2 separate regions of the Homo sapiens genome follow, and region 2 is linked to region 1. The links come from fine-mapping of genetic effects on gene expression. Tissue or cell type: whole blood. Region 1 holds a variant in brackets; the other region holds the start of a gene. All regions are shown on one strand. Distances are between the middles of the regions.

Evidence for each region.
Region 2: WIPI2 starts here. The variant in region 1 is fine-mapped to the expression of WIPI2 in whole blood (TOPMed, PIP above 0.99). The same link has a PIP of 0.9 or more in monocytes after interferon gamma.

What each region holds. Positions count from the first base shown.
Region 1 is chr7:5,229,743-5,244,464 of GRCh38, forward strand. It overlaps WIPI2 (WD repeat domain, phosphoinositide interacting 2), which reads left to right. Exons shown (of 13, transcript NM_015610.4): 13 at 1,093-4,098. The coding sequence ends at 1,205. Among named protein-coding and RNA genes, the nearest start is that of SLC29A4, 46 kb to the right of the region's middle. RefSeq lists enhancers at 2,215-2,364, 10,476-10,770, 11,244-11,333 and a silencer at 4,931-4,990. The variant C/T (reference allele first, on the strand shown) is at 4,091.
Region 2 is chr7:5,178,923-5,193,644 of GRCh38, forward strand. WIPI2 (WD repeat domain, phosphoinositide interacting 2) reads left to right here and starts at 11,311. Exons shown (of 13, transcript NM_015610.4): 1 at 11,311-11,571; 2 at 14,196-14,249. The coding sequence starts at 11,498. It also overlaps the pseudogene RNU6-215P. RefSeq lists silencers at 4,083-4,283, 8,293-8,422, 11,096-11,745, 11,756-11,805.

The sequences.
Region 1 (14,722 bases):
GGGGCGTGACGCAAACCTGGAAGGTAATTAGCCCCACAGCCCCGAGTGCTACTGCCTTCTGCTGGCTCCGGAGCCACCCCACCAGCTCCTCACTGGGAAAGATGGGGACTGGTTCTGAGAACATAAGCGAGGTTGGTAAATGGGTGTTCCCAAGGCCTCTCTCAAGGCTGAATTCAGTTTCGTTTCCTTTTTTTTTTTTTTTTTTAAAGGAGAGATGGGGTTTCCCTATGTTGCCCAGGGTGGTCTCAAACTCCTCCTGGGCTCAAGTGATTCTCCCGCCTCAGCCTCCCACAGTGCTGGGATTATAGGCATGAGCCACCGTACCAGGCTCATTTTCTCCGTTTTTAAAGAAAATGTCATCCTGGCTCAGGTGACTCTGGGGTCACGTGACTTGGGCCCAGACTGGCCACCTCTCAGCCAAGATACCACCCTGAAAAGTACTGCCAAGGGTTTTGCCTCAGTCTTTTCCCTCCCACCTTTTTCGTCCTTCAGCAAATCTGCATCGAGTACTGCCTTCATGCTGGGCCTGTGAAGTGCAGAAGCTGTAGGGGAATGAGGCCAATGGGCTCCCCTCCGGCGGCAGCACTAAGACCCATGCATGAGATCCTCCAGCCACAGCCTTGGCTATGTGAGCCACCTTCTTAAAAAAGCCAACTCGCACTCCAGTGGGAGAGCCTGTGGTTTTGCACCCACGCAGGGCTGTGCCTGCTCGCTGCCACTCCCATCTGTGAACCGGCACTTCCAGTTCATGAGCCCACCCTGAGAGTCTCCTAGTGTCATTTTTTTTCCTGGTGTTATTTTTGAGCTCTTAACCAGCTTGAGAGAGTTTGTGGCCCGTCCATGAGGGAGCCTCTGTTTACTGTGCAGGCATCATTTTGACATTTATGAATGTCAGAGAACAAATGACTTCATCTCGAGCTGCCTAAGGCTGCAAAGAGTTCATTAGAAAGCAATCAGAATTCAGAACGTCTTAGTACAGGCTTCAGTTTATAAATATACACCAGTGTTTCCAAAACACAGTCCTCAGTGTGTGTCATGGGGTCTGTGGTGTGTCCCCAGCCTTTGAAGGGTGACTTCGTCGTCTCTTTGCAGCCTACACAGACGACCTGGGTGCTGTGGGTGGCGCCTGCCTGGAGGACGAGGCCAGCGCCCTGCGCCTGGATGAGGACAGCGAGCACCCGCCCATGATTCTTCGGACTGACTGAACTTGACCTGTGACCTCTGACCCGGGGAGCAGAGAACACTGGCTTCACAGAGGACTTTGTGCATTGCTGCTATGAACTTTGACCTGAGTCGGGGGAGAGGATGGCAGAGACTTTATTAAAAAAAAAAAAAGATTGTAGTGGTAGTCTAACTCCATAACGCTGAGGAAATACATCATTTTCACTTCAGTGGCTTTTAAATCCTGCTTATGAATTTTAGCTTTTTGTTTGTTTGTTTTCTCTTTTTGCCAAAATTAACTGTTTGGTGAAGCCCGCAAAACCTCCTCGCTTTGCATGCATGAACGTGCCAAGCCAGCATAGGGGAGCTAGAAGCCACTTTCCAGCCACCTGCCGTTGGGTTTTTTCATATCTGTACATAATGCCGAGTGCGTAAGGAAACCGTGGCGTCGCGCACAGTGGGTCTGCTTGTCAAGGCCAGTTCTGCAGTGACAGGCCCAGGGGCTGCCCACCAGGTGTGCTGGGCAGACTTCAGCTGGGACAGAAGTCCGATCTCCCTAGGGCCCCACCTGGACCATTTTCCCTCCGTTTTATTTTGTTAATTAAATTCTTTCCAAATTGGATCGCTCTGGGATTTCTTCCATGGTGGACTTTTGTTTCTGATCTTGTTTTCCCTGTGGATATTGGAGGACAGCGAGGTTCTTTCTGATACTAAAAACCTTTCTTTCAGGCAGCAAATGAACTTGAAAGGTTGCCTGGACTCGCTGGAGCAAAGGAAAGCGATTTTGTTTGTATAATTAAATGATCTGTTCTTCTACTTCACTCTTCCTGTTGAAAAACTGTGTGATTTTTTTTTTTTTTTAAGTAAAGTTTGTAGCTCCTCCCATGCCCAGGAAAGCACAGAACTCAAGTGTGGTGGCCGTCTGAGCTGTCCTTTCGCTGGCCCCGCTGTCCGCAGGGGCTTCCTACCTGTGTGAGAGGTCGTAGCGGGAGACAGCAACAGAGAGTAGGCGGCTGGGCCACGTCCTTCACAGGGCGTCATGTGCCTTTCTATTTTCATCTTAGAAAATTTCCTCAGCAAACCGATGAGAGATTGTGGTTGCAAGCTTCAGTATTTGCCTCGCTTCCCTTCCCTTTTCATATTTACAGAATTAAAACAACCTCAAGTACCTCAGACTCTGCATTCCAAACCAAGGCACCCAGCAGCCAAAGTGTCGAGGGCATTTAAGTGGCATTAATGGCAGGAGAGATGGTTTTAGAATCTATGGAGTGGTGGAAGTTACGGATAGAAGGGAAAAGGCAAAAACTATTTACCCTGCCTTTGCAGGCTGGGGTTTTTGAACCGAGGAAGGCTGGGACGCCTGTTTCCAGATGGTTGTCATGGTCACGCTGGGCGAAGAGCTGGAGGGGAGTTGTCCCCTCAGCTGAGCGGCTGCGGTGAAATGCCCCAGTGTTCCTGGGTTGGCTTTACGGCAAACTAAATGCAGGGGACGCTGGAGTCCGACTCACCTACACCGGCTTCCTCCCAGCCGCTGGTGTGCGGCACACACAACATCTGCATTAGGCAGAGGTGCAAGTGGGCTGATTGAACTTTTCCTTCAAAACCTGCTTGTCTGTCCTGGACCTTTGATGAAATGGGATCCCGGTCACGCAGGCTGAGACAGTGGGGACCGCCGAGGCCAGAGTGGGCTATGCTTGAGCAGGGATGAGAAGGGCCGCGGCAGCACGCAGCCTTGACCCACGCCTGCGTCTTGTGGTGCAAGGCCAGAGGGCTCTCTCTAGAACCTGACCGTGCACTCCATCTCCTGGGAGCCACTTTTGGCAAGAGTGAGTGTGGGGGGAAAAAGTGTGCACAAGAGATACGGAACCCTGAGCTAGGGTTTCCTGTCACCAAAGAGTGAGCTGCATTTCCAGTTCTGCGTTAAAGTATCGTTTGTTCTGGTGCCTGCCTGTGGTGGTGATTTGGAGACTCAAATTTCCTTTGCCAGGTCTCTTTTGTCTTTCTTTGGGATTGGTAGTATAGAAGATGCTGGGAATTGTCTTCCTCGCTCAGCCTCGGCTTCCCGCACTGTAAGATGAGGCAGTTGCAGAGGAGGCCTCGGACGTCCTGTGACCCTCGGCCCACACTCCCCCTTGGGTGGCCCTGGCAGGGCTGGCTAGGTGCGTTCCCTGCAGACCACGGGAAGCCCTGTGCTTGCCTGGGTCAGGGCTAAGCTGTGCGCCCTAGAGGAGGGAGGAGGACTGCAGATTCTTGGTCGAGAAGAATGAAGAGGATTTCTGTGTTTGCTGAGCAGCCATTGTGGAGGGTTACCCGCCTCCACTTTCCCGTTGCCCATTTCACTGCCACCAGCTCCTCTTCCTCTGCTCGAACCTATGAGTCCCAGCCTCACTGGCGGCCTCAGACATGCTCAGGAGTGACGGGGACAGAGGGAGGCCGCTGAGTTGCCCGTTAGAACTCTTACTGCTGCGCCAGTGACCCAGGTGGAGAGGGACCCTGAACCAAACAGAACGTGTGCTAATTTTCCGAACTCCAAACTGTACACTCATATTCATTTTTAAATTGTATTTTTCCAAACTTCAAAAAGGACGATGAGCGTGGGGGATAGGAAACAAAACCTGTAAACGTTGTGAATGGGCTCAGTGGACTCTGGGACCAAACCTTCTGTAATCTCTAAAACAATGGGACCAAGAGCTGGATGGAACCTGGAGTCAAAAAGAACTGCTTCAGTCCCCGCTGTACCGCCTGCCTAGCTGTGGGAGCAGGCAGGGCGCCTGGGAGCCTGCGTTTTCTGGACCGTTCCATGGGACTCATCCCTACCTCACAGGGCTGTTGTGAGGTGTTGTGTGACTGCGTGTCCTGCAAACGCCCAGCTCGGTGCCCAGCCAGCGGTGGGCACCCAATAAACGCTACAACATAAATGTGTCTTCTG[C/T]AATTAAACACGATTTTTATTCAGTTCTGGTTTTTGAATAAGCCAGGCGGGAGGGAGGTGACAATACGGGTAAGAAGTGTAATTCAGAGGCTAGGCACGGTGGCTCACACCTGTAATCCCAGCACTTTGGGAGGCCAAGGTGGGCGGATCACTTGAGGTTAGGAATTCGAGACCAGCCTGGCCAACATGGTGAAACGACATTTCTACTAAAAATACAAAAATTAGCTGGGGGGGTGGGGCGGGGGATGGTGCACGTCTGTAATCCCAGCTACTTGGGAGGCTGAAGCAGGAGAATCGCTTGAACCTGGGAGGCAGAGGTTGCCAGGAGCCAAGATTGCATCAGTGCACTGCAGCCTAGGCGACAGAGCAAGACTCTGTCTCAAAAAAAAAAAGTGTAATTCACATGGAGGTTACACGTGGGTCTCTTTCATCCCCGCCTTTTCTCAACACCAAGCTTAACGGGCAGGTGGTGCGAGCTGGTCTGGGAGGTGGTGGGCGCCCTGGAACAGCAGGCCCTGCCCCTGTCAGGGGACCCAGGAGCTCCATGGCTGCCGTTCCCTGCCACAGAGAGAACTGGGTGATTCTTCCCACGCACGGTTTCATTTGGAGAGGGGAGAGAGGGAGTCTTCCTACCTCCACAACCAGCAGTGGGCTCCATGTGTAAAAGGCCGGGAGTGCTTTGGCCACAGCTTAGCCAAGGAAACGGGACAAGGGGTGGCAGAAAACATGCTCATCCCTGTTGCTCGTCTGGTTTTTTTGGTTTAGTTTTTTGTTTGGGGGTTTTTGTGGTTTTTTTTTTTTGAGACTGAGTCTCGCTCTGTCGCCCAGGCTGGAGTGCAGTGGCACGATCTCGGCTCACTGCAACGTGCACCTCCTGGGTTCAAGCAATTCTCCCTCAGCCTCCTAAGTAGCTGGGACTATAGGCACGCACCACCACGTCCGGCTAATTTTTGTATTTTTAGTAGAGACCGGGTTTCACCATGTTGGCCAGGCTGGTCTCGAACTCCTGACCTCAAGTGATCCACCCGCCTCGGCCTCCCAAAGTGCTGAGATTATAGCCATGAGCCACCTCGCCCCGCTGCTCGTGGTTTTCATAACCACATTGGCAAAGGGTGGGGATGGGCCAGGCTTGTTGTTTCGTGTGTCCCCTGCCCTACATCTTTGTAGACCAGACCTTTGCATGCAGGGAATGACCGAGTCACTTGTTTGAAATGTACATGAGGTGGCTCATGCCTGTAATCCCAACCCTTTGGGAGGCAGAAGCGGGCGGATCATCTAAGGTCAGGAGTTCGAGGCCAGCCTGGCCAACATGGCAAAACCTGTCTCTACTAAAAATACAAAAAGTAACCAGGCGTGGTGGTGGGTGCCTGTAATCCCAGCTACTCTGGAGGCTGAGGCAGGACAGTTGCTTGAAACCGGGAGGTGGAGGTTGCAGTGAGCTGAGTCATGCCACTGCACTCTCACCTGGGCAACAGAGTGAGACTGTCTCAAAAAAGAAAAAGAAAAAGAAACGGACATGTGACACCATGGCCAGCAAGCAGGAAATCCAAATGCGTTATTTTACAAGCGTACTTAAGAGAGAGGCGGGACCGTTCGGCTTCAGCTCTGTGGTGTTGGAGATGTAAAAAGAACGTGCAGGGAAACCGTGGGACTTCTGTTTGGGTCGCCTCCCTGCTTTACATAGAATTCTCTTTTTTATGACTTATTTCTTACTGAAAATATATCATGATAATCATTGGCCAAGCAGATAGGGTTTTTCTGACGTATCTTTTAGTTCTGACCCAGGTCATAACCCTTCACCTATGTCATACCTTTTCAATCTGTGGGTTTTTCTGAAGCACAAAAACAAAACAAAACCAATCTCAGGGTTTTGAGATGTGACCAGTTCTTACCCTTCCCTAATAACCAGCTAGGAAAGTCTCTAATTTAGAAAAATGAGGCCGGGCGCGGTGGCTCATGCCTATTGTAATCCCAGCACTTTGGGAGGCCAAGGCGGGTGGATCACAAGGTCAGGCGTTTGAGACCAGCTTGACCAACATGGTGAAACCCCGTCTCTACTAAAAATACATGGGCATGGTGGCATGTGCCTGTAATCCCAGCAACTCAGGAGGCTGAGGCAGGAGAATCGCTTGAACCCGGGAGGCAGAGTTTGCAGTGAACAGAGATCATGCCACTGCACTCCAGCCTGGGTGACAGAGCACAGCTCTGTCTCAAAAAAAAAAAAAAGAAAAAAGAAAAATGAAATCTTTCTAAAGTTCAGAATGTGAAGAGACTGTCTTGATTCCTCACCTCTACATCGTTTCTTTCTATAGTTAGTTATAATGTAAATAGATTCCTCTTAACACTTCATTTTAGGTGAAGCTGTTTTTGGTGCTGCCAGTGTGCGTGCATGTGTGTGTGTGTGTGTGTCTGTGAGTGTGTGTGTGTGTGCCTGCCTGAGCTTCAGGTGAACATACTGATTACATTCCCCCACCAAATCTGACTGAAAGCCCATTGCTATCAGCATTTTATAACACGCTAAAGAATTGGACGTGGTGGCTCACACCTATAATCCCAGCTTCTTGGGAGGCCAAGGCAGGAGGATCGCTTGAGACCAGCAATTTGAGGCAAGGCCAGTCTGGACCACATAGCAAGACCCCCTCTCTTAAAATTAAAACCTGTGTTCTATTTTTTTGTTGCCTACTCACAGGCTGAACATCTCATTTGTTTTTGTTTGTTTGGTTTGTTTTTGAGACAGTCTCACTCTGTCACCCAGGCTGGAGTGCAGTGGTGCGATCTCAGCTCACTGCAACCTCTGCCTCCCAAGTTCAAGCGATTCTCCTGCCTCAGCCTCCTGAGTAGCTGGGATTACAGGTGCCCACCACCACGCAAGGCTAATTTTTGTACTTTTAGTAGAGACGGGGTTTCACCACGTTGGTCAGACTGGTCTCGAATTCCTGACTTCGTGATCCACCCACCTCGGCCTCCCGAAGTACTGGGATTACAGGCATGAGCCACCGAGCCCAGCCTTAAACATCTAATTTGTACCAAATTGCCCTATAATTCTACCTAGAATATTATAGCAAAATGCCAGAAGCCTGACTAAAATCTTTTAAAGAAACCCAACTCGGCCAGGCGTGGTGGCTCACACCTGTAATCCCAGCACTTTGGGAGGCCGAGGCGGGTGGATCACGAGGTCAGGAGATCGAGATAGTCCTGGCTAACACGGTGAAACCCCGTCTCTACTAAAAATACAAAAAAGTAGCCGGGCGTGGTTGCAGGCGCCTGTAGTTTCAGCTACTCGGGAGGCTGAGGCAGGAGAATGGCCTGAACCCGGGAGGTGGAGCTTGCAGTAAGCCGAGATCGCCCACTGCACTCCAGCCTGGCGACAGAGTGAGCCTCCGTCTCAAAAAAAAAAAAAAGAAAAAGAAAAAAGAAAACAAAAAGAAACCCAGCTCTCCCAGGGTGGGGGGCATTACACAGGGGAGCCCCTCCGGGTGTCGCCGCAGCTGAATGATTGCGTTGGTGGAACAGCTGGCCCGCTTGTGCGTGGGCCAGGACACGGTGGACCTGTTCCGCCTGCGTTCTTGCCGGTCCATGTTTGGATTAGCATGTGAGTTTAAACATAGTGCTGATGCGGCGATTCTTCTAGAAGCACATCCTTCTCTGAGCTGAATTGCTTCATCACACACTTCCTTCTGGCTTGGGGAGTTCCTTTTCATCAAAGGCCAAGCCTTGTGTGTTTCGGTCCTGCCCATCTCCGTGCGGCCTGCGGGACGTTGGTTGGCGTGGAGTCTTCACAGCCGGCTGTCCAGGCTGGCAGCTCTCCCATCAGGGCTTCTCACAGCCACCGTCTGTCTGAGCAGACGCTGAGCATCGTGTCATCCCTCGGACACACACAAGACTCCACTATTCCCTGTGCTGATTTCTGTTTCTGTTACAGCTTCTGCTTCTGATTTTATTTTTTTTTTCTTTGAGATGGGAGTCTCGCTCTGTAGCCCAGGCTGGAGTGCAATGACATGATCTTGGGTCACTGCAACCTCCACCTCTCAGGTTCAAGCAGTTCTCCTGCCTCAGCCTCTGGAGTAGCTGGGATTACAGGTGCGCACCACCAAGCCTGGATAATTTTGCATGTTTCTGTAGAGACGAGGTTCCACCATGTTTCCAAGGCTGTTCTCAAACTCCTGGCCTCGGCCGGGCGCGGTGGCTCACGCCTGTAATCCCAGCACTTTGGGAGGCTGAAGTGGGCGGATCACCTGAGGTCAGGAGTTCGAGACCAGCCTGGCCAATATGGTGAAACCCCGTCTCTACTAAAAAAGAAAAAAAAATTAGCCTGGCTTGGTGGTGCGCCCCTGTAGTCCCAGCTACTCGGGAGGCTGAGGCAGAAGAATCACTTGAACCTGCGAGACGGAGGTTGCAGTGAGCCAAGATCACGCCACTGCACTCCAGGCTGGGCGACAGAGCAAGACTCTGTCACAAAAAACAAACAAACAAACAAACAAAAAAACCTCCTGACCTCAGGTGATCCACCCGACTCGACCTCCCAAAGTGTTGAGATTACGGGCGTGAGCCACTGCGCCCGGCCCTGTTGCTGCTTTTAGAAGTGGCTTTTTCTTCCTGTGCGACATTACTTTTTAGTGGGTCAGCGCAGAAATGTGCTTGGGCTCCCTGCGACGGCGAAGCACCTTTCCTCAAGGGAATCTGAAGACTTTTCCCTGCCTTTCCTCTCCCTCGGGGAGGTCCCCTCAGCGCCCTCCTCTTGACCTTCCCTGGTGCGTTTAGTGCTGAGCCTGTGCCTGAGCCTGGGGACCTGGGAGAGTTCGGACCGAAGTCCACCGAGGGCCGCAGAACGGCAGGGTTGGGGAACTGGCTCCCTGGCGCGCACAGCTCTGTCTGCAGGGCGCGGATCTGCGCTCGGTGTGAGGAGGCACGGTGCATGTTAAGTCGAGAAACTTCTAAACTCCGCCACCAGCTTTGGAAATAACAGCTGGGATTTTCTGCTTAAACCAGCATCCCAGAGCACACGGGTACTAACTAGCAGAAGCCCTAAGTAAAATGAAACGGGCTCTGAAGGAAGTCCTGGAGCCTCCTGCCCGCCTGCCCTCGCCATTCATTCAGTCCTGCAGTGACTCTGAGGAATGGCGTGGGCGGGAGGACAAGTCACCTTTAAAGCCAAGCACCCGGTGGGCGCAGAGGGTCCCGCCTGGAATCCCAGCACTTCGGGAGGCTGATGCGGGCGGATCACGAGGTCAGGAGTTCGAGACCAGCCTGGCCAAAATGGTGAAACCCCGTCTCTACTAAAAATACAAAAAATTGCCTGAGCGCGGTGGCTCACGCCTGGAATCGCAGCACTTTGGTAGGCCGAGGCAGGCAGATCACAAGGTCAGGAGTTCGAGACCAGCCTGGCCAACGTGGTGAAACCCCATCTCTACTAAAAATATAAAAAAATTGGCTGAGCGTGGTGGCGCGTGCCTGTAATCCCAGCAACTCGGGAGGCCGAGGCAGGAGAATCGCTTGAACCCGGGAGGCGGAGGTTGCAGTGAGCCGAGATGGCGCCACCGCACTCCAGCCTGGACGACAGAGTGAGACTCTGTCTCAAAAATAAATAAATAAATAAATAAATAATGCAGATATCTTTAGAAATATAAAATAGTATCCTAGGGGCCAGGCACAGTGGCTCACACCTGTAATCCCAGCACTTTGAGAGCCCGAGGTGAGAGGATTGCTTGAGGCTGGGAGTTGAAGACCAGCCTGGGCAACAGAGCAAGACCCCCGTCTTTACGAAAAATTAAAAAATTAGCCAGGTGTGGCCGGGCATGGTGGGTCACGCCTGTAATCCCAGCACTTTGGAGGCCGAGGCAGGAGAATCACAAGGTCAGGAGATCAAGACCATCCCAGCTAACACGGTAAAACCCCCTCTCTACTAAAAATACAAAAACTTAGGCGGGCGTGGTGGCGGGCGCCTGTAGTCCCAGCTACTCGGGAGGCTGAGCCAGGAGAATGGCGTGAACCCGGGAGGCGGAGCTTGCAGTGAGCCGAGATCGCGCCACTGCACTCCAGCCTGGGCGACAGAGCGAGACTCCAGCTCAAAAAAAAAAAAAAAAAAAAAAAAAAAAATTAGCCAGGTGGGCTGATATGCCCAGCTACTCAGGAGGCTGAGACAGGAAGATCACTTGAGGCCAGGAGTTCGAGACCAGCCTGGGCAACAGTTTGAGACCCGCCGCAGCCTCTACCAAAAAAAAAAATAATAATATTCTAGTTTACAAGCATGCTACAGTTACAAACTCTTCCTTGGTAAGATTTTCCTCCCCAGAGCGCTGTTGTCAGACTCCTGGAGCTGCTGAGGCCCTGCAAGCTGGGTAGACAAGGGAGGCAGGCCGGGCCAGGTGAGCTCCCCTGCACCCCTCCCCGCCCCCGCCCTGCCTTTCCTGTGTTTCTCTGGACCCTAACGCTGCGAGACACAGACGGATAGACCATCAGGACCTCAGGAGCCGCCTGAGTCTCCTCCCAACCCCGAGCTCTGAGGAGGGTGGATGGTTTTCTTCACGGCCACTAGGTGGTGGAAGTCTCCCAACTGTGCAGACATCTGCGGGGCTGGTGGGTTGGCGAGCTGTGGGGGAGGGTGCCCTGGTCAGACTGTGTCCTTGGGGGCTGGGCGGTCGCACCCGGGAGCTTCGCCAATGTGCTAGTTTGAATGAACTCCCAATGCAAAAATGGCAAACAGAGGCCGTGGAGAAACCTGGCTTCCTCCGACAATGGGAATTTCACTCTGTTCTCGTTACCGCCTGTGGATGAATGTGGGTCTCGGAGGGCGCCTCTCCCTCCGGGGAGAGGGTGACCTTGCCACAGTGGGACTCCATTCCAGCGGCAGCTCCCTCCCCTGTCTGTAGCCCCACGGCCTCCTGGCCGCCTGCCTTCTTATTGGCCACCCCTCCCCTCTCAACGACCTGTTTCCTAATCATGCCATTCCCCCGCGGGAGAGCCGATTCATCACCATTTAAAATGGTGAATCGATAAAGCCGGTCAGGCCGGGCGAGGTGGCTCACGTCTGTAATCCCAGCACTTTGGGAGGCTGAGACAGGCGGATCACCTGAGGTCAGGAGTTTGAGGCCAGCCTGGCCAACATGGTGAAACCCCGTCTCTACTAAAAATACAAAAATTAGCTGGGCATGGTAGCGGGCGCCTGTAATCCCAGCTACTCAGGAGGCCGAGGCAGAACACTAACTTGAACCTGGGAGGCGGACGTTGCAGTGAGCCGAGATCGCGCCACTGCACTCCAGCCTGGGCGACAGAGTGAGAGTGCATGTCAAAAAAAAAAGAAAGAAAGAAAAAGAAAAAGCCAGTCAGATCTAGAGAGGGCGACCGGAGCATCACCCCCAGACGGCTTGACTCTGAGCTCCTGACCTCAGCCTTCAGACAGAGGCTCTCCCAACACACACACACATAGACACGTGCGCACACACACACACACACACACACACACACCCCGCACCAGCAAACGCTGTCTGCTCTGAAGCAGGCACTGTGTAGTCTGATATGTCCCCGGGGAAGGAGGGTGGCCAAGCACAGACAGCTCCCGAGAGAGCCTGAGGAGAGAGCTGCCCAGCACCTCAGGATGGAGAAAGTGCTAGAGAGGCCCTTGGCTTCCCTGCATCCCACGGAGATAACAGCAGGTACAGGGAGTGAGGTTCGAGAGCAGTGAGTGTAAACCATAAGGCTCTGCCTGGGCAATACATGGTCCTTTCTCTCTTTTTTTTCCCTCCCTTCCTTCCTTCCCTCCCTCCCTCCTTCCTTCCTTTTTTTTTTTTTTTTTTGAGATGGAGTTTCACTCTGTCACCCATGCTGGAGTGCAGTGGTACAATCTCAGCTCACCGCAACCTCCGCCTCCCAGGTTCAAGCGATTCTCCTGCCTCAGCCTCCCGAGTATCTGGGATTACAGGCACGTGCCACCACGCCTGGGTAATTTTTGTACTTTTAGTAGAGATGAGGTTTCGCCATGTTGGCCAGGCTGGTCTCGAACTCCTGACCTTAGGTGATCCGCCTGCCTCGGCCTCCCAAAGTGCTGGGATTACAGGCATGAGCCGCTGCACCCAGCCTCATTCTTTCTTTTTTCTTTTAGAGTTCGGGTCTCACTCTGTCACCCAGGCTGGAGTGCAGTGGTGGGATCACAGCTCACTGCAGCCTCAACCTCCTGGGCTCAAGTGATCCTCCCACCTCAGTCTCCCAAGTAGCTGGGACTCCTGGTGCCCACTACTATGCCTTTTTGTAGAGGCAGGTTCTCGGTACATTGCCCAGGCTGGTCTTAAACTCCTGGGCTCAAGCAGTCCTCCTACCTCAGTTTCCCAAAGTGCTGGGAATACAGTCATGAGGCACCACACGCAGCCACCTACTCATTCTAAGACCATTCCTTCCCTGTGGTGGTGTTTATGAAATTGGAGTGTTAGGGGCGGGGCACGGTGGCTCACGCCTGTAATCCCAGCACTTTGGAAGGCCAAGGCAGGTGGATCATTCGAGGCCAGGAGTTCGAGGCCAGCCTGGCCAACATGGCAAAGCCCCGTCTCCTTTAAAAAATACAAAAATTAACCAGGCTTGGTGGTGCGTGCCTGTACTCCCAGCTACTCAGGAGGCTGAGGCACGAGAATCGCTTCAACCCAGGAAGCGGAGATTGCAGCGAGTTAAGATCGCACCCCTACACTCCAGCCTGGGTAACAGAGTGAGACTCTGTCAGAAAGAAAGAAAGAAAGAGAGAGAGAGGGAGGGAGGGAGGGAGGGAAAGAAAGAGAGAGAGAGAAAGATAGAAAGAAAGGAAGGAAGGAAAAGAAAGAGAGAGAGAAAGAAAGAAAGAATGAAAGAAAGGAAGGAAGGAAAGAAGGAAGGAAGGGAAAGAAAGAGAGAAAGAAAGGAAGGAAGGAAGGAAGGAAGGAAAAGAAAGAGAGAGAAAGAAAGGAAGGAAGGGAAAGAAAGAGAGAGAGAAAGAAAGAAAGGAAGGAAGGGAAAGAGAGAGAAAGAAAGAAAGGAAGGAAGGAAGGGAAAGAAAGAGAGAAAGCAAGCAAGCAAGCAAGCAAGCAAGAAAGAAAGAAAGAAAGAAAGAAAGAAAGAAAGAAAGAAAGAAAGAAAGAAAATTGGAGTGTTTCACAGCCCAGGGTCATTAATTTGGCCACCTGTCCCCTGGAAATCCGTAACTAAGTGACACCTTAGAATGAAAGAAACGCCTCATGGTGTGCACAGTGACCCATTGGCTTCAGGGCACTTTGCTCACAAAACACCCCTCCCCAAATAGAAGACTCTCCTGGGCAAGGTAACTCATCCCAGCTGGTGGCACAGGGCAGGACAGGGTTCAGTTGCTCCTGGCAGAGGCTGAGGGAACAGGGCCGGGGGAGGCCCCTGCTGTCCTTGTCTGAAGAGCCAGGATCTGCATAGCTCCCCACCCTCAGCCACCCCACCCTGGCTTCCCTGGGCCCCTTCTGAGATGCAGAGATGCGTTCTGGGATTGGCCACCATCCACCCCCAAGCCCAGACCATGGCACCATGCCCCAGGCTGCCTGCGGCCCTCTTCTTGACAGACTCGCAGTCAGGTCCCTGCAGCCTCCTTGGTGCTGACAAATGGCCCCCAGGAGGGTCCCTGGCCACTGCCCCAGAACCCACCATGGGCCCCGCGTCCTGGCCGCTGGCCAGCTCTGTCATTTATGTCCTTCTTGACCTTCGTGGGAGCGCCCAGGCTGCTCCATTCTGTCCTGAAACCTACACCAATGCAGAACGTCACTGTGGTTGGCAAAGTCACTCTGTTTGCTTCAGGTGGGCACCGCAGGCAGGGCTGAGGGCTGTGGCTGCCGTGTTGCCGGCAAAGGAGAAAAACCCGCAATTTGTTCAGACGAGCTCCTTTGCTTAAGGCTCTGGGGAGCATCTTTTCTGGTTATTTTCAGCTTTCTGCTCCTTTTGAGGAAGTTCAAGGGATCAGCTCCTGTCCCCACCCCCTGACTCCAGGGGTCAGACTGTGTCAGTGTTCTGGGGGTCCCTCTTAAGGAGGCACCCCAAATCTGGAAGAACCTCTGGGCTCCTAGAAAGATGAAGACACGTAGAGCTGTGCCCATCACTGGGCAGTTTCCATCAGAGAGGGCTTTGGGGCTTCGGAGCACGGGTCCCTCCCCAGGCCCTGTCCTCCAGAAGGATTTGGATGGGGTCATCGGAGAGAGAGAGCTCGTCCTACATGGCAGCAAGTGGCTCTTTTCACAAACTGTCCCTGCCCCTAGCTGGGCATAGTGGCACGCACCTGTAGTCCCAGCTACTGGGGAGGCTGAGATGGGAGGATCACTTGAGCCCAGGGTCTCGATCAAGGCTGCAGTGAGCTATGATCGCACCACCACATTCCAACCTGGGGGATAGAGTGAGACCCTGTCTCAAAAACAACAACAACAACAAAACAACAAAAACCAGTCTCTAGCCAGGCACAGGGGCTTACACCTGTGTAATCCCAGCACTTTGGGAGGCCAAGGTGGGTGGATCATCTGAGGTCAGGAGTTCAAGACCAGCCTGGACAAGATGGCAAAATCCCATCTCTACTAAAAATAGAAAAATTAGCCGGGCATGGTGGCAGGCACCTGTATCCCAGCTACTCGGGAGGCTGAGGCAGGAGAATCGCTTGAACCTGGGAGG
Region 2 (14,722 bases), 51 kb before region 1:
GACTTAATATTAAGATACCAATTGTCTCAAAAATTACTTACAGGGTCAACACAATTCCTATCAAAATTCTGACTGTAGTTTTGCAAAAACTGACAAGCTGGTCCTAAAATTCCTATGAAAATTAAGAAACCTGGAATAGCTAAAACAATCTGGAAGACAGACGTACCAAGTTAGAGGTCTCACACTTCCCAGTTTTAAAACTTACTGCAAAGCTACGGTAATCAAGACAGTGTGGTACTGGCATAAGGATAGACATTAGATCAATAGAATAGAACCAAGAGTCCAGAAGTAAGCCCTTATGTTTTTGACAAGTGTTTCAATTTGAGGGGGAAAGAATTGCCTTTGCAAACAAATGGTGCTGGGAAAACTGGATCGTGACCATTTTTTCTGATAGCAACTCAACTGTTAATTTTATTGAATGTCCCTTGTATGTGATGAGTTACACTTTTCTTGCTACTTTCACGATTCTCTTTGACTTTCAACACTTTGACTATCATGTGCCTAGCTGTTAATCGTTTTTTAGTTTATCGTACTTGGAGTTCATCAAACTTTTTGAATATTTAGATTAATATTTTTTAAATCGAATTCAGGAAGTTTTCACCCTCTATTTCTTCTAATATTCTTTCTCCCCCTCTTCTCAATCCTATCCTTCTGGGATTTGCATTATGCATATACAGATATTCCTCAACTTACAATAGAATTATGTCTTGATAAACCCATTTTAAGTTGAAAATATCATAAGTCAAAATGCATTCAATACACCTAGCCTGGCAAACATCATAGTTTATGGCCGGGTGCAGTGGATCACGCCTGTAATCCCAGCACTTGGAAAGGCTAAGACAGGAGGATCACTTGAGCCCAGGACTTTGAGATCAGCCTGGGCAACATAGGAAGACTCTGTCTCTACAAAAGAAAAAAAAATTAAATTAAACAATATGGCACTTCTGGAAATCAGATTCCTCTCTCCCCACTCCCTGGGGTTTGCTGTTGTTGTTGCTTGTTGCTGCTGGTGTTTGTTTAGTGACTTTTCTGGACTTTGTAAAATCTGTGTTCTTTGTTCTGTGCAACCACTGAAGACTTTGCTTAGTTATCTCAGTGGTCAGCTAATAACTGGACAGAGATATTCCTAGACGTCTACTTGCTTTGGCAGCACATACACTAAAATTAAAATGATACAGAGAAGATTATCTGACCCTTGTGCCAGGATTACACACAAATTCGTGAATTATTCCATATTTTTAAAAAAATGATTTAAAAAATTAAAAAGTGATCTTTTTAAATGCTTTAGACCATTAAGTTTCCCAGCATTTGCTGACAAACTCTGTGTGTGTTGAGGCATGTTTTCAATACTCCAGCAAGCAACTTACAACTCTGCCTTAGCCTTCATTTCCTCTTGTGCAGACACTCAAGGTCAGCCAGAGGTGAGAGTTTAGGACCTTCTCAGGTCTTCCTGGGTGTGCGCACAGCCCTGTACATGCACGTAGCCCACTAGATTCTCAGAAACACAGCAGGGGTTTTTTAAAGTATCTTATTGGCATCTCTTTTCCCAGTTATTCCTTTAAAAAATTTTTGATCAAGCCAGGCGCAGTGGCTCACGCCTGTAATCCCAGCACTTTGGGAGGCCGAGGCGGGGGATCACAAGGTCAGGAGATCGAGACCATCCTGGCTAACATGGTGAAACCCCATCTCTACTAAAAATACAAAAAATTAGCCGGGTATGGATGTCTGGAGCCCATTCCTTTGGCTTCAACTTTTCAGACAGTGTTATCTTGTAACTGTCCTTGAAGTGAGCTGCTAAGCAGAGGAAAACTTGTTCTTCTTTTCTTTTTAACCCTTGCCTTGCCACGGTTACACCACATCAGGTAGTTGAAATGTTAAACAATTGCCACTGATTGTTTTGGACAAATGCCTTGGGCATAGGGCTATTTGCACAGATACTGGCAAACTCTTGGATCAAATAAAGACAAGCTTTGAGAATAGCATTTTTCAGCAAACTGGCAGACAAGTCAAATAGTGACAGTTTTTGGGGGATGGGGCTTTTAGGGAGCTCCAAGCCCAGCCTGCCTCTTCCAGTGACTGGCAAGATGCTTGTTTTCACAGCTACCATGGTTAAAAGCCAGCCTATTTTCATGGATCTGGAAGAGAGGGATGCTTTTAGAGCAAATTAAAATGGCACAAAATCAGTGTTTATACTGAGATTCAGCCCTCTTACTTGAACATATACTCTTCAAATTGTTGCAAGCCTTTAGATAATTTCCAGGTCTGAAGAAATTGATTTTGACCATTTTTGTCAGCATTCTCTTTGCTTATATGGAGGAGTGAGTTTTTGGAGATTCTTGCTCCACTATTCTGGAAGCATTTCCTTTTATCCATTCAATATTTTTTGTTTCCATTGCCATTCTTTACATTTTTAAAATTTTATTGTAAATTGACCATGTGTGTATTTATGGTGTACAACGTGATGTTATGGCTTATGAATACAACGTGGAATAATTAAATCAAGCTAATTAATACATCCATCACCTCAAATATTTATATTTTTTGGTGGTGAGAACATTTAAAATTTATTTTCTTAACAATTTTTTTTTTGTTTTAGAGACAGGGTCTCACTCTGTCACCTAGGCTGGAGTGTAGTGGCATGATCACGGCTCACTGCAGCCTCAACGTCCCAGGCTCAAGAAATTTTCCCACCTCAGCCTCTCAAGTAGCTGGGACTACAGCTGTGCGCCACCATGGCTGGCTAATTTTTAAAATTGTTTTGCCGAGATGGAGCCCCACTATATTGCCAAGGCTGGTCTCTAACTCCAGAGCTCAAGTGATCCTCCCACCTTGGCCTTCCAAAGTGATGGGATTACAGGCGTGAGCCACCACGCCTGACCTCTTAACAGTTTTGAAATGTACTATACAGTGTTGTTAGTTATATTCACCAGGCTGTGCAATAGCTCTCAAAAAAGCATTCCTTCTTTCTAACTGAGATTTTGTACCTTTCTTTTTTTTTTTTTTTTTTTTTTTTGAGATGGAGTCTCGCTCTGTCGCCCAGCCTGGAGTGCAGTGGCGCGATCTCTACTCACTGCAAGCTCCGCCTCCAGGGTTCACACCATTCTCCTGCCTCAGCCTCCCAAGTAGTTGGGACTACAGGTGCCCGCCACCATGCCCGGCTAATTTTTTGTATTTTTTACTAGAGACGGGGTTTCATCGTGTTAGCCAGGATGGTCTCGATCTCCTGAACTCATGATCCGCCCGCCTCAGCCTCCCAAAGTGCTGGGATTACAGGCATAAGCCACCGCGTCTGGCCTGGCCTTTTTTTTTTTTTTTTTTTTTTGAGATGTAGTTTCACTCTGTTGCCCAGGCTGGAATGCAATGGCGCGATCTCCGGCTCACTGCAACCTCTGCCTCCCGGGTTCAAGCGATTCTCCTGCCTCAGCCTTCCGAGTAGATAGGATTATAGGTGCAAGCCACCATGCCCAGCTATCTTTTTGTATTTTTAGTAGAGACGGGGTTTTGCCATGTTGGCCAGGCTTGTCTTGAACACCTGACCTCAAGTGATCCAACCACCGCAGCCTACCAAAGTGCTGCGATTACAGGCATGAGCCACCGTGCCTGGCTCCCCACTCTATCTTAATAGCATTCTTAGGTTGTGAGATATTCAAGCTCTTCTGTGTTTTTTTTTTGTTTTTGTTTGAGATGGAGTCTCGCTCTGTCGCCCAGGCTAGAGTGCAGTGGTGTGATCTCAGCTCACTGCAACCTCCGCCTCCCGGGTTCAAGCTATTCTCCTGCCTCAGCCTCCTGAGTAGCTGGGATTACAGGCATTAGCCACCACGCCCGGCCAATTTTTGTATTTTTAGTAGAGATGGGGTTTTACCATGTTGGTCTTGAACTCCTGACATCAGGTGAACCACCCACCTCGGCCTCCCAAAGTGCTGGGATTACAGGCATGAACCACCGCGCCCAGCCATAGCCCTTCTTTTTAAAGAAACTAATGCTCAGCGAGGTTAAGTGACTGATGTAAAGTCATATATCCCCGGAGAACCAAGCCAGGGTTTGAACCCCAACACACCTGTTTGATATGAGTGTTCTGCATGTCCAGCCCTTCCTCCACTCATGTACCCTTTCACTCCAGTCCTTAGTTCCCTCCTCCACACCAGCTGTTTATCCCACAAGTTTATTTAGGCACTGATCTGTGGGAGGATTGCTCAGCTCCGAAGCTAGCAAATAAGGAGACTCCACGCACCTGCAGATGAGGGTTCTGCTCTCAGGTTGAAAGCAGAAAGTCTCTTCTCTCTGAGCTGGGCATCGGGCCGGTCACCTGGAGGAATCCCAAAGTGATGATAGAAGGCCCTGAGCATCCTTCCTGCTCTCCATGCCATCAGGAATGTCAGCTGATGCTGTCTCCAGGTGAGCCAAGACATGCAGGTGCATTCCTGCGTCACACGCAGGTCACGTCCCTGGCAGAAACCCAGCCTGCTCTCCAACAACACCCTTCTGGCAGTTCCCAATACCACGCAGATGATAGAGCAATTAAACAAAAGCTGGATGAGTGAGCAGCGGCTCTCAGCTCCAGCCCATCCTGGCCACCAGAAAAGGAGGACCAGGGTTTAGTTCTTGAGGTGAAACCAGCCCAATTGTCCCCATGGAACTGATGTTTATGGTTTCTTTGAATAAACATAGAAATTGATCCTCCCAGTCTTTTTTTTTCTTTCTTTTTTTCTTTTTTTTTTTTTTTTTTGAGACAGAGTCTCATTCTGTCACCCAAGCTGGAGTGCAGTGGTGTAGTCTCAGCTCACTGCAATCTGCCTCCTGGGTTCAAGCGATTCTTCTGCCTCAACCTCCTGAGTAGCTGGGATGACAAGCACCCTCCACCATGCCCGGCTAAGTTTTGCATTTTTAGTAGAGATGGGGTTTCACCATGTTGTCCAGGCTGGTATCGAACTCCTGACCTCAAGTGATCCACCTGCCTCGACCTCCCAAAGTGCTGGGATTACAGGCGTGAGCCACCGCGCCCAGCCATTCACATCTCTTTTGACTGAGAGCTTTACACTAAGATGAAGGAATTTTGACAATGGGCTCATGCGTTTGGGATTCACCATGTGCCCTATTACCCAGATGGATGGTAGAGTGGCCTACAGAAGGCTACTGAAGCAAGCCTATGGAAGGCTCAGTCATGACTGCAGCTAAGAGACCACATCCTGTAAGACTGGGCTGTTGTTCAATAATATGCAGTACACACCTGCAAACCAAGAGTGGAGGTGGTAGTTTTTCCTTGCATATAACATCTAATAACTCACTTAAGGAACTTTTGTTTTCATCTACCCAACTCAGGGCTTACTGGAGTTTGAGATCCTAACACACAAGGAATTCGCTTTTTTTTTTTTTTTTTTTGAGATGGAGTTTCGCTCTTGTTGCCCAGGCTGGAGTGCAATGGTGTGATCTTGGCTCACCACAACGTCCGCCTCCCGGGTTGAAGTGATTCTCCTGCCTCGGCCTCCCGAGTAGCTGGGATTACAGGCAGGTGCCACCACGCCCGGATAATTTTGTATTTTTAGTAGAGATGAGGTTTCTCCATGTTGGCCAGGCTGGTCTCGAACTACTGACCTCAGGTGATCCACCCGCCTCAGCCTCCCAAAGTGCTGGGATTACAGGTGTGAGCCACCTCACCCAGGCCATGGAATTCCCTGTTTTATCCCAGGGAACAGAGTTGTGGTTCTGGTCCATTGGAAACTGAGTCTACTTCGCGGTCATTTTGGGATCTTCATTCACTGAACCAATAGAGAGAGAAGGAGTTTCTGTTCCAGCTGGGATCATAGATTGCTATGAGCAAGGGAAAGTTGGGTTGCTGCTCAGAATGAGATCGAGGAGAACTATGTCTAGAACCCCGAGGATTCACTCAGGCACCTCTTTATGTATCTTCATTCACCAATAACCATGGCGGGTGAGACATGACTATACAGTGGTAAGTAAAGAAAGAGACTTTTTTTTTTTTTTTGAGACGGAGTCTTGCTCTGTAGCCCAGGCTAGAGTGCAGTGGTGCAATCTCGGCTCACCACAACCTCCGCCTCCTGGGTTCAAACGATTCTCCTGCCTCAGCCTCCCAAGTAGCTGGGACCACAGGCGCCCGCCACCGCGCCTGGCTAATTTTTTGTATTTTTAGTAGAGACGGGGTTTCACCATGTTAGCCAAGATGGTTTTGATCTCCTGACCTCATGATCCGCCCTCCTCGGCCTCCCAAAGTGCTGTGATTGGCAGACTTATTAAAGAAAGTATGAAAGTACATTACCAAGCCAGGTGCGGTGAATCACGCCTGTAATCTCAGCACTTTATTATGAATGCAGTAGCTATGAACATTCTTATTTATGTCTTTTAGTGAAAATATGCACTAATTCTACTGTATATGCACCTAGAAATGCATATACAGTGCATTTGGCCGAGTCAAAAGGTATATATATGTTTAATTTTAGTAAATAGACCGTGCGTGGTGGCCTGAGGTCAGGAATTCAAGACCAGCCTGACCAACAAGGTGAAACCCCGTCTCTACTAAAAATACCAAAATTAGCCGGGCGTGGTGGTGGGTGCCTGTAATGCCAGCTACTTGGGTGGCTGAGACAGGAGAATCGCTGGAACCTAAGAGGTGGAGGCTGAGGTTACAGTGAGCCAAGATTGTGCCACTGCACTCCAGCCTGGGCGACAAGAGCAAAACTCCATTTAAAAAACAAAAAAACAAAAAACAAAAACAAAACTTTAGTAGGTAGTGCCCAAGTTTTCCAAAGTGGTTGAAACAATTTAGACTTTCATCTTGCAGTGAGCCGAGATCGTGCCACTGCACTCCAGCCTGGGCAACAGAGCGAGACTCCATCCACAGTGTATGAGAGTTCCAATTGCGCTCTATGGTCATCCACACTTGGGATTGTCAGTTGCTTTAATTTTAGCCAATTTGGTGGATGCTTAGTAATACCTCATTTGCCCTTAATTTGCATTTTCTTTTTTTGTTTGTTTGTTTGGTTTTTTTGAGATGGAGTCTTGCTCTGTCATCCAGGCTGGAGTGCAGTGGTGTGATCCCGGCTCACTCCAACCTCTGCCTCCCAGGTTAAAGCGATTCTCCTGCCTCAGCCTCCCGAGTAGCTAGGACTATAGGTGCCTACCACCAGGCCCAGCTCATTTTTGTATTTTTAGTAGAGACAGGGTTTCACCGTGTTGGCCAGGCTGGTCTCGAACTCCTGACCTCAGGTGATCCTCCCACCTTGGCCTCCCAAAGTGCTGGGATTACAGGTGTGAGCCACCACACCCAGCCTTAATTTACATTTTCTTAATGAGTATTAACGATGACCACCTTTTCAGGTGCTCATTAACATTCTGATATCCTCTTTTGTGAAGTGCTTGTGTTCAAGTATTTTGCCCAGTTAAAAAAAAAAAAGCTGTCTATATTTTTCTTATTGATGCGCAGAAGTTCTGGGTATAATTCCTTTGTCAAAAATATATATATTGCAGGCCGGGCGTGGTGGCTCATGCCTGTAATCCCAGCACTTTGGGAGGCCAAGGCGGGCAGATCACGAGATCAGGAGATTGAGATCATCCTGGCCAACACAGTGAAACCTCATCTCTACTAAAACACAAAAAATTAGCCTGGTGTGGTGGCACACGCCTGTAGTCCCAGCTACTTGGGAGGCTGAGGCAGGGGAATCGCTTGAACCCTAGAAGCAGAGGTTGCAGTGAGCCGAGATCGCACCACTGCACTCCAGCCTGGTGACAGAGCAAGACTCCGTCTCAAAAAAAAAAAAAAAAAAAAAAAAAAAAAAAATATATATATATATATATATATATATATATATATATAAAATAAATATATGTATCTCTAAATCTTGCCTTTTCTTCCTCTCTTAATGGTCTCTTGAAAATAGCCCATTCTTCTCAATGTTGATGAAGGCCAATCTCTCATTTTGTGGTTACTACTTTTTTTCTTTTGAGACAGAGTCTCGCTCTGTCACCCAGGCTGGAGTGCAGTGGTGCGATCTCAGCTCACTGCAACCTCCACCTCCCGGGTTCACGCCATTCTCCTGCCTCAGCCTCTTGAGTAGCTGGGACCACAGGCACCAGCCACCACACCCGGCTAATTTTTTGTATTTTTAGTAGAGACGGGGTTTCGCCATGTCAGCCAGGATGGTCTCGATCTCCTGACCTCGTGATCTGCCTGTCTTGGCCTCCCAACATGCTGGATTACAGGCGTGAGCCACCGCGCCCGGCCTGTGGTTACTACTTTTTAAAGAACTTGTTTTGTTTTGAGACAGGATCTTGCTCTGTCACCCAGGCTGGAGTGTAGTGGCGCGGTCATAGCTCACTGCAGGCTTGAACTCCCAGGCTCAAGCCATCCTCCCGCCTTAGCCTCTGAAGGAGCTGGGACCACAGGCGCACACCACCACGCCCAGCTAATTTTTGTATTTTTGTAGAGACCGGGTTTCCCCATGTTGCCTAGTCTGGTTTCAAACTCCTGGACTCAAGCAATCCGCCTGCCTCAGCCTCCCAAAGTGTTGGGATTACAGGCATGAGCCAACACATCCGCTTTAAAGTACCTGTTTAGACTACTTTGTTTATCCCAAAATCATGAAGGCATTCTCGTTTCCTTCTAGAAATTCTATTGTTTTTACCTCTCACATCTAGGACTGTAATCCATCTCAAATTAATTTTTGAATATGGTGTGAGGTAGGGGTACTTATTCCTTTTATTGAAAAGACCATCCTTTCCTCAATGATTTCCAATGCGTTCTTGACCCTATAATTAGAATTAACTTCTGTAAGCACTCATTAGATCGTTCCACTTTCCTGCCTGTCTTTAACGGCAGACCATTGCTCTTATGGACAATAATCAGATAATGGTCAGTTCCTTGCGTAACAATACGCAGCTTGATCTGGCCACCTCCTGTCTCTCCTGCCAAATCTTGCCTTGTGTCTGCCTTTCCACTCTGAACATAGAGTTCTTTGGACAGGTCACACCCTCATCCTCAAGCCCTTCCCATATAGAGTGTTTTCATGCCCTTAGACTAGTTACTCAAACTTCAGGTCTCATCTCTTCCAGGAGCCTTCTCAATAGCACAGTCCCTGTCCCTTAAATATAGGTTGTGTGACTTCTATATATGCATTCATGGTCAGGCACAGTGGCTCATGCCTGTAATCCCAGCACTTTGGGAGGCCGAGGCAGGCAGATTACCTGAGGTCGGAAGTTCGAGACCAGCGTGACCAACATGGAGAAATCCCGTCTCCACTAAACATACAAAAATTAACTGGGCGTGATGGTGCACACCTGTAATCCCAGCTACTCGGGAGGCTGAGGCAGGAGAATCACTTGAACCCGGAAGGTGGACGTTGCAGTGAGCCGAGATTGCGCCATCGCACTCCAGCCTGGTCAAGAAGGTGAAATTCCGTCTCAAAAAAAAAAAAAAAAAAAAAAAAAATATATATATATATATATATATATATATATTCGCTCATTGTACCCCCGAGTTTCTAATTATATTTATTTATTTTATTTTTTGAGATGGAGTCTCACTGTGTCGCCCAGGCTGGAGTGCAGTGGCATGATCTCGGCTCACTGCAGCCTTCACCTCCTGGGTTCAAGCAATTCTCCCATCTCAGTCTCCTGAGTAGCTGGGATTACAGGGCCGTGCCACCACAACTGGCTAATATTTTACATTTTTCCTAGAGACAGGGTTTCACCATGTTGGGCAGGCTAGTCTCAAACTCATGACCTCAGGTGATCCACCTGCCTCAGCCTCCCAAAGTGCTGGGGTTACAGGCGTGAGTCACCATGCCCAGCCTATTTTATTTTACTTTTTAGATGGAGTCTCACTCTGTCGTCCGTCCAGGCTGGAGTGCAGAGGTGCAATCTCGGCTCACTGCAACCTCCACCTGTGGGGCTCAAGCAATTCTCCCACCTCAGCCTCCCTAGTAGCTGAGATTACAGGTGCCCACCACCATACCCAGCTAACTTTTGTACTTTTAGTAGAGACGGGGTTTCACCATGTTAGCCAGGCTGGTCTGGAACTCCCGACCTCAGGTGATCCACCCGCCTCAGCCTCCCAAAGTGCTGGGATTACAGGTAAGAGCCACCACACCTGGCCTTCTATTTATATTTAAATATCTCCCCATTATAACTTCTCTGAGGGAAAGGAGGAGGCCTATTTAGTTCACATGAGAGGTGCGTCCTAAATACTGTTGAATGAATGAATAAATTTAAGGGACGATTCTGTCCCAGGAACCCAGACAGTATGGACCTTGGAGAAACAGGACGTTTCCAGTCTCAGATCTAGCACTTGGCTAATAATTATTTCTGAGCCTCGATTTTCAAATCTGTAAAATTAAGATATACTATTCTCTACTTAGGATTGTAATGGGCATCAAATAAGATAATGTGGCTGGGCACAGTGGCTCACATCTGTAATCCCAGTACTTTGGGAGGCCGAGGTGGGAGCATCACTTGAGGCCAGGAGTGCGAGACCAGCCTAGGCAACAGAGTAAGACCCCCCCCGCCCCCACCCCATCTCTACAAAAAACTTAAAAGTTAGCAGGGTGTGGTGGCATGCATTTGTGGTCCCAGCTACTTGGGAGGCTAAGGTGGGAGGATCGCTTGAGCCTGAGTTTGAGGCTGCAGTGAGCTGTGATTGAGCCTCTGCACTCCAGCCTAGGCAACAGAGCGAGACCTTGTCTTTCAAAATAATAAAATGATAAGGTAATGCGCAGAAGCATTCAGCACAGTGATTGGCACATGGAGGGCCCATTGGGGTGTTTTTGTTTTTGTTTTTGTTGTTGTTTGAGACAGAGTCTCGCTCTATGGCCCAGGCTGGATGGATTGCAGTGGCATGATCTCGGCTCACTGCAATCTCCGCCTCCTGGGTTCAAGCGATTATCTTGCCTCAGCCTCCCGAGTAGCTGGGATTACAGGCGTACACCACCAAGCCCGGCTAATTTTTCTTGTATTTTTAGTAGAGACGGGGTTTCACCATGTTGGCCAGGCTGGTCTCGAACTTCTGATCTTAGGTGATCCGCCCGCCTTGGCCTCCCAAAATGCTGGGATTACAGGCCACCGTGCCTGGCCATTGAGTGTTATTAAGAGGAGGGTACGCAGAAAACAGACTCCCGCCAGCTCTGCCCCATGCGCATGAGCGGCCGCCGCTCGCCCTCAGCCAGGCCCAGCGCGCCCCGACGCGTCCCCACGCCTGCGTGATCCACCGGAACCCAAGCCCAGGCAGGCGGTGAGAGGGCGGGGCCTCCGCAGTGCGACTGCGCCGCTCGAGGCCGTGCGTCGCGGGGGCGGGGCCGCGCAGGCGTACCGGGTGCCCCGGCTCTGGAGCATAAACAAGAGCGGGGACGGGATGAGGCGGCGGTTGATCCCAGGGTGGCGAGTGGCGGCGACCGAGGCGGCGAGCGGGGCCCGGCGCCGACCCTGAGTGCAGCCTGACCCGCCCTCGCGCGCGCGCCCTCCCCGGCCGGGCCCACTCGCCGCGCGCCCAGCCATGAACCTGGCGAGCCAGAGCGGGGAGGCCGGCGCCGGCCAGCTGCTCTTCGCCAACTTCAACCAGGACAACACGTAAGGCCGGGGTCGGGGGTCGGAGTCGGGGTGAGGCCAGGGTCGGACCCGGGCTAGGGGGAGGGCCTCGCTGCCAAGCTCGGCGGCGTCGCAGGCTCGGCCTCCCCGCGGGCCAAGGCGCGCAGAGGCGTCCCCAGGGGCGGGCCCGGGGCGTGCAGGGAGGGGCGCCCTCCAGGGAGACCCTCGGGTGCTGGCCTGGAGCTGCGGTCCCGGAGCGGGAGAGGTGGTGGAGAGGGGGCTGCTTTCACCCTCTTGCGGGGAGGCCCCCTGGCTTCAGACTTAACTACTTCTCGCAAAGTTGGGGCCGAACTTTGGGGCTTGACTTGTCTTGGCCGCCTGTGGAGCGCTGGGTGTGGGTCGCTTCCTCTCCTCTCGTCTCCTCTTCCCGCTGCTTGCTCAGCGTCTCCCACTCACTCTCCTTTGAATCAGGCCCTTCTCCTTGTCTTTTCATCGTCTTAAGACCCTTCTCTCTCTCTTGATTTTCTTTTCTTCGTTTCTCACTGTTTTTTTGTTTGTTTTTGTTTTTTGGGGTTTGTTTTGTTTTGAGACAGAGTCTTGCTCTGTTGCCCAGGCTGGAGTGCAGTGGTGCCATCTCAGCTCACTGCAACCTCCGCCTCCTGGGTTCAAGCGATTCTCCTGCCTCAGCCTCCCGAGTAGCTGAGACTACAGGCACGCGCCACTGTGCCCAGCTAACTTTTTTGTATTTGTAGTAGAGACAGGGTTTCACCATGTTGGTCAGGCTGGTCTCAAATTCCTGACCTCAAGTGATCCGCCCACCTCAGCCTCCCAAAGTGCTGGGATTACAGGTGTGAGCCACCGTGCGCGGCCCTCCCTGTTCTTTTTGGGACATCAACTTTGATGTCTTCTCCAGCAAGTAACAAACTTAGCAATAACCTTGGCATCTGACCTAGCTAGGGAGAAACTGAGCCAAGAGAGGCGTTACGGACCAGTGCCCCAGGAGTCTCAGAGCTCCAGCGGGTGGGTCATCCTCAGGGCAAGAGAAGGCCTTAATGCCAGCCCGTGCATTCGGAACGCTGTTTGTCCCCACTGATACGGGTTGGATGCTGCCTGGGAGGAGGACTTGTGGGGATGGTTAATAGATGAGCGAGCTTTCTGGAGAGAGAAGGGTGAGTTATGGGGTTGGCAGGGAGGAGAGCCATCTTGGAAGTGAGTAAGAGGAAGTGAGGAAAGAGAAGGAGTGGGGCATTTGGCATCTTACTAAGTCATTGGTTGAGTTGTTACTGGCTGAGTGGAATTAACATAGCAGAAGGTAAGATTCTTTAGGAAATTAAAAGTGAATTGTAGAATGGACAACACTCAGTGGGTGGTGTACAGCAGGCACTCAATAGCACCTCCCCAAAGCTGTGAAGACAGTCGCACAGTGGGACTGTATTGAGAGTCGGAAGGGGCAAATCACCTCATCCAACTACAGATGAGGAAATCCTTCCGAAAGGCTCCAAGCTGGTCTGGGTTTTGGAATTGGTTAATAGTGGAGCGGGGGCAGGAGTGGAATCTCGCCTCCTGAGCTCTCTTCCAATGTTCTTTCTGCTCTGCCATGCTGTTTTTTTTTCTGTTTACAGAGTAGAATTCTGAAGACAGTGAATTTAGAAATAATAGCATAACAACGTGTAAAGATGAAAACTCCCAAGTACTGTAGCGTTCTGTGTGACCAAAAGCCAGAACAACAAACAATTCGGACAACCTGTTGCAGTTCAAGTGGAATAGACTATGTTAATCCAGATAGGGAAAAGGACACATCCCAAACCAATTCTAATTTGGTTTTTAAGCCCAAGGCCACAGTATTTTGAGACCAGTAAGAAATGGTAGTAGTAGTAGGGTGGTTTATGCCTTGTATAAATTAGAGAGTTTCCAAAACATTGTCGGCCACTCTTTCAGTTTTTCACTAATTATTTCTATCAGAATGAAATCAAATAGAGAAAAGCATTCTCTTTTACTGTTACTTCAGCTGGACTGCCATGTTCCCTGTGTCACAGAAGAGTGTCACTCTGGCCTGAAATAGGACCTTTTCACACTTGGACATTTTCACACTTACCCACTTCTCCATGCTCCCCGAAGTTATTACAGTTCAAGAGATTTCTGTTACTTTGAGATTTCATAACTTTGACTTGCCAGAGAGACCTTGATGTAGTGTAAACCTAAATTGGAATGAATAGTAAGCTAGGATTATACTAGAAGTTGACTGGGCTAAAATGACGGTAATTTGTTTTAAATCTACACTTGAAAGAAATAGAGAAGTTCCCGGAGAGAGCTTTTATGGCTTATACCTTTTCCTCCCTTCTTAATCTCCAGAATTTATTGAGGAGCACAATTTTTAGCAAGTGAAAGAATGACCGTCTAGAACTCACATTTACTGTATGCAGTGAGAAAATTTGGAAGCCAGTTCACTTACTAGAATATATATGTTATAGGGTCATTTCCCTTTTTTTTGTCTTTTAAATTCTTTTTGTATTTGTTACATACCAAACTATAACTGTCCTGCCTTTCTTTACTGGTAATATGATTTCCAATGTCGTACTTTTTCATGATTCCTATCCTAAAAGTGTGCATAAGTTTTATTTGTTTTTTACCATTTGTTTTTTGTTTTGTTTTGTTTTTTTACCTAGAGAAGTGAAAGGGGCATCAAGAGCAGCTGGTCTTGGCCGTCGCGCTGTTGTCTGGTTAGTTCCAACCCTGGTTTCTGAAAGTATCACCTTGGAAGGCTTATGTTAGAGGACTTTTTTGGCTTTTTGAAATTGCAGTGAACCAGTTAATAAGTGGGAGAGGATCACTTGAATCTGAAATGGAAATATCAAGGACTACATTTTTCCAGTGGATACCACAGCTTGTGGGAAGTTAGTGATGTAGCAATGTCTGTTTTAAATGCCATGTCTAAAAGGGATGGAATGAAGAAAGGGACTTGACTTTCCAAGTCTTGTGTTTGTAGAATTGATGTTATGAAGTGTGTGGAGACAACAGGAGAAACCTGTTGTTTTCTTCCACCATGTCTCTTCTAGGTTATGCTTATTGTGCTGGGAAGGTACTGCTCTCCTCTCTTTGTTCATCTGTAAATCAAGGGTTTGGGTTTTTGTTTTTGAGATGGAGTCTCACTGTTGCACAGTTTGAAGTGCAGTGGCATAGTTATAATGATCAT